Regions from separate parts of the Homo sapiens genome. Here region 1 is linked to region 2. Evidence: fine-mapped expression QTL. Tissue or cell type: skeletal muscle. Region 2 holds a variant in brackets; the other region holds the start of a gene. All regions are shown on one strand. Distances are from middle to middle.

What was found. PIP is the estimated chance that this variant, and not a neighbour inherited with it, causes the effect.
Region 1: it holds the start of FOXL1, and the variant in region 2 is fine-mapped to the expression of FOXL1 in skeletal muscle (GTEx, PIP 0.98).

The regions. Positions count from the first base shown.
Region 1 is chr16:86,577,155-86,579,654 of GRCh38, reverse strand. It overlaps FOXL1 (forkhead box L1), which reads right to left and starts at 1,106. Exons shown (of 1, transcript NM_005250.3): 1 at 1-1,106. The coding sequence starts at 931. RefSeq lists an enhancer at 1-246.
Region 2 is chr16:86,613,327-86,616,173 of GRCh38, reverse strand. No RefSeq gene overlaps it. Among named protein-coding and RNA genes, the nearest start is that of FOXL1, 36 kb to the right of the region's middle. The variant G/T (reference allele first, on the strand shown) is at 1,176.

The sequences.
Region 1 (2,500 bases), 36 kb after region 2:
AAGCGTTGAAAGGCGGACGGAGGCTGGAGGAGGCGGCCAGGAGCGAGGCACCCAGACGGCCGCCGGGCCCAGGCTTGGCACCCCCTAGGAGTTCGTCCCCTGAAGGCGGCTTCTGGCCCTGCTTTCCCGCCAGGATGCTGTCTATGCTGAAGCTCTTGGACTTGTCGGAGCTCTTCGGAGAGCTGCGGGAGGCGGGGCGCAGAGGGGACCCCGGGCCGTCCCCTGTGCGCGCTGCCTGGCCGACCGCCACGGCCGCTGCGCCCTGGGCAGCGTCACCAGCGTCCTCGTTCGGGGACGCGGTCCCCGGCCAGTGGAGGGGCGCCGGCGGAGAGGGGCCGTCCAGGAGGGGCGAGGGGCCCGCGGGCGCTGCCTGCAGGCGGGAGATTGCGGGGCCCGAGCCCCCTGCCCCGCTCCCCGCCTCCGGCTGCGCCTCCGCGCTGCGCTGGTGCGTCTCGGCGCGGGGCCTCTTGGCCTCCGGGGCCCCGGGGCCCGGCTTGGGCTTCCTCTTCCGGCGCCGGTAGTTGCCGTTCTCAAACATGTCCAGGCAGCGGGGGTCCAGCGTCCAGTAGCTGCCCTTGCCCGGCCGCCCTTTCTCGCGGGGCACCTTGACGAAGCAGTCGTTGAGCGAGAGGTTGTGGCGGATGCTGTTCTGCCAGCCCTGCCGGTTGTCGTGGTAGAAGGGGAAGCGGTCCATGATGAACTGGTAGATGCCGTTGAGCGTGACCCTCTGCTCGGGCGCGTCCTGGATCGCCATGGCGATGAGCGCGATGTAGCTGTAGGGAGGCTTCTGCGGGGTCTCGGCCCGGCCCGAGGCAGCTAGAGCAGCCGCGGGGGCGAAGGCCAGAGGGAGGCCGGGTCTCTCGGGACCGTACAGATACAGCATGGGCGAGGCGGCCAGGGCAGGCAGCCGGGGATCGAAGAGGTGACTCATGGCAAGCGAGAGCCTGCGCTGCGCTCCCCGCAACGCAGGAGACCCGGGCGGCCTAGGCACTGCGCCCCGCGCCGCAAGGGCCCTCCCGGGGAGCCAGCCGTGCCTCTGCCTCTGGCTCTGCCGCTCTCCCCGGCCGCTCCGTGCTCTGTCCCTTCTTCATGGCTTTAAAAATGTTAAATAATTGTTGTAAGTTTGCTGTTATATGTTGACTTAGCCCTGGAAAATAAATTGTCTATGATAAACAGTCCTTGTGTTCTCAGCCCACCCACATTAATTAAAATTTCATTGCTGAAAAACTCCAAGCTTTTCCCTCCACGTGTCTTTTTGATACCAGCCAATCGGTTTTGGGGCTATTCCTTCATTTGTTTATAGAATTAGTCTGTTGATAAGTCCGCCCACCCAAGTTGAATCAAGCTGTGTTTATTTGGAAAAATTTCCGGGCACCCAATATATAAACGCACTGATCTGATGTTTGAAATATCACGTCCACCCCTTGACGCTGTAAGCACACACAGTCAGTGAGGCAGGATGTAGACTGCGGTGGCTCAGAGCAGGGTCTGCTGAGCCAGGAAGGAGAGGTGGAGATGGGGGTGGGTGTGCAGGGATGAGTTTTACGCTGGCCTGGGGGAGCCCCATAACGCCAGGGCCTCCCACAAAAGGTCTTTTCTTCTCCCAGGCTTAACCGGAGATATCGAGATGCCACAGTCTAGTAAAACACTTTCTGAGGTCCTAGGAACCTTTTAGATTGGGGCAGGGAGAGTATCTAAGAAGCCTGAGTGTCTGCTGAGAAGGGGATGCGGCCCTCCCTGGAAAAACAGGTGGCAGACCCAGTAGGAGGTGGCACTCTCTAGGGACCTGCTCTCCCACACCCTCCCTTCCAGGGCTCTCCGGAAATCGGAGGGAAAGTGGACTCTGGGAGCCCAGTCTCTCTGGAAGGGAAGGCCTAAGGCACTGGGGGCCTGGGGAAGAGCTCATGGTCCACAGCTCCATTGAGGAAGGTTTCAAAATAAACCCATTTAGAGAACCGGGGGCAAAAGTAAGGTCCTCCTGATGGGGCCAAGGTTGCAAGAGAGGAACACCATAAAAGGAGGCCGTGGCAGCTGGCGCGGGAGGCCTGGTATTTGTGAATGTGGGTCTCCAGCTTTATATTCTGGGCTTTCCTGTTTATAACAAGGAGGGGGTTATAACAACTTTACAAGTGCATGCAGCTGGCCCGTGATTACATTAGGCATTTGGGAAGCCTGCTTGCTCTCCCTGTATCCACCCACCCTGGGGTGTACGCGGCCCTCCACCCCCATCTCATTTTACATTTTCCCACATCACTGTTTGAATAAAAAATCCTGAATCATGCTGATTTCGAAGGGGGCCTCTCCTCCCCACTCCACCGGTTAGGGTAAGGGTAGAGGCACCTAGTGTGACTACTTCCTGTTTATGACCACCCCCTGAATATTAAAACACACACACACTGTCACACACACACCCACACACACACACACACATTCGGATAACTGGCGTCTCATTGAGCAAATCGTGTGAGCATGTCAAAGAGATGAGGGAAGGGGGAGGATG
Region 2 (2,847 bases):
TTTGAAGGAACCAAGAAGAATCTTCCAGGCCTTCACTGAGTGCTTTGAATCCAATTTAAGTAAAGAAGTGCGCCAAATATTACCAGAGTTGATCACTTGTGTGCTAGTTTGCTTTCTAATAATTTCACGAATAAAAAAAAAATTAGGTCCCTCAATATAAGCAAAACCTGGGGTGATGGTGAGGCATATATAGTAGACAACAAACAACCAAAAAATCATCCTTTGGATTTTTGTTGATCAGATACTCAGGTGCCTTCACACACCCTCCCATCCCATTTGCACTTTTGAAGATCCCCGGGTCTTATTTTCTGAATGAGTGGATTCCTTCTGAAACCAGCATGCCTCAACTATTACTGTCATTCAGAAGCATGCAAAATAAATGATTCTGAATAATAATAACTTATCATGTACGTCCACACCCCAGTCCAACAAAGACCTCACACCAACGTGTCTGACAACATCAAATACACAAAAAAACCAAACTGAAAACTCCACTAGACATAAATACGTAGGTGCACACATACATAAACATAAAAGCCCGCAGTAGCCAGCATTCATCAGATTCAGCATGTCGTGGTCGCTGTAGGGAGCGGGAGGCCAAGGGGAGGCTGATCCACACATCTACGTGGCCTTAGAGTGCTCCCCAAATAAAATAAGTGTCTCTGCAGACATGCCTGGGAAGCCGCTCCAAGTAGCAGAAAAAAAAAAAATCTAAATCAACCTTTCTGTGTCGCCTGTGTTATCTTTGAGCTTCTCTGGGTCTTAATTTTTATCTGGAAAGTGGGGCCAGCTATACCTGCCTAGCAAGGAACACAGGCTGAGCCCCTGCCATGTGTCTGCTGGCATGCCGAGCCCTGGGGGTACAGAACAAAAGCCATATAGAACATGCTTCAGGGAACATGTGGAAAAGACGTGAGACCTTGTAAACTATGTGAATGTTGTCTATTTGCTATCAGAGCCCACGTCTCAATTTCACAAACAATTTGAAATGCAAAGTAGAGTTTAGCACTGTGCACCAAAAATTCTGGTTTCCCTCCTACAGAATTACACACCTCTGCCCCATTTAAGTCCAGCTTGGCCACATGACTTGCTTGGCCTAATGAAATATGAGTGGAAATGCCTGTCACTTTAAGAACCAGACCGTAGTTCGCCAAGCCCTTTTCCCTCAGCTCCAG[G/T]TAACAATGTTGCAAATGAAAGCGGCTTCCTCCTCCTGGGTTCTGGGTTGAACACCTGAAGAAAACATGGAACACAGCCATGCTGACCTGCAAGGGACACTCAGTACTAGCTAGAAATAGAAAGCCACTGACATCCAAAGGGGATTTGCTACTGCCACATAACCTAGGCCGCCCTGGCAGCTACTAAAATGGAAATGCTTGTTTGAGTGACTGGAGCAAGCATACAGATCTCAGAGGGTGTGCTTCGTGCAAACAGGCAAGCTTTTAGAAAAGAAGAGACATTTTTTACAAGTCCCTTAAAGTCACACTGATGCATTTGTAGTCAGGCTATAATGATCTTTGACATCTTGCATGGACTTGCCTCCCAGAGCCAACCCAGATTCAGCAGCTTTCGAAATTCTAAAGCACAGGTTACAGGTTTCTGCGCATTTTACAAAATTCAAAAGTATCAACACAGGAAAAAAAATTTCCAAAGCTGGACTTCTACATAAACAAAGACAACCCGAAGAGAATGTGACAGATACTCTCGCTTCGTGCCTCTAAACCAGGACATGCAAGCCTGGACTTGGAGTTAAAAACAAAGGCAGCCCCCCTGCCTGGACCATCACTTTTACTTAAGGAGTTTGGTCTGGAGGGGCTTGCTTCTGTCCGTCTTCTTTTTTTAGGGGGCATTTTTAATTCTTGTTTAAGAGATCCTTTTCTGTATCAAAGTCAGGAATATATCCACCTGCATTTTCCACTAAAACTTTTAAAGTTTTGCTTTTTACATTTTAGTTCTTAATCCATCTGGGCTGTGTGTGTGTGTGTGTGTGTGTGTGTGTGTGTGTGTGGTGAGAATAGAGATGCAATTTCACTTTTAATCTATGTGGATAACCAATTACACCAGCACGTTTACTCAATAAACCCTGCCATCTCTCTCATACATGCAGATTATTTTTATAGTAATCTGAAAGTGTAGCTGTTATTAGAGAATGCAACATTTGCATGAGTTTCCGTAGATAAAATATGAGTTCAGCAATTGTCAAAACTCTTTTGGTTGCAAGAGAAAAAACCTAACTCAAACTGGCTTAAACAGTGTGTGTGAGTGTGTGTGTGTGTGATTCTATGTGTGTGTGAGTGTGTGTGTGTGATTCTATGTGTGTGTGTGAGTGTGTGGCTTCCCTGAGGGAGGCACGGTGGCTCCTGTACTCCAGACTTTGTGTCCTAACCCTCTGAGCTACCCTGCCAAGCAGGGAAATTTTTATTTATTTATTTATTTATTTACTTTTTAATTTTTTTTTTTTTTTTTTGGTGACAGAGTCTTGCTCTGTCACCCAGGCTGGAGTGCAGTGGCGCAATCTCGGCTCACTGCAAGCTCTGCCTCCCGGGTTCACACCATTCTCCTGCCTCAGCCTCCCCAGTAGCTGGGACTACAGGCACCTGCCACCACGCCCGGCTAACTTTTGTATTTTTAGTAGAGATGGGGTTTTACCGTGGTCTCGATCTCCTGACCTCATGATCCTCCCACCTCAGCCTCCCAAAGTGCTGGGATTACAGGCGTGAGCCACTGCGACCGGCCCAAACAGGGAAATGTTTTTCCCAATGGTCCATGACCACTGGGTCACTGTGGCTTATATGGGTCCCAGGTGCACCCCTGGCCCCAGCACTGTCCAGGGGTTATGTGGGGTAGTTG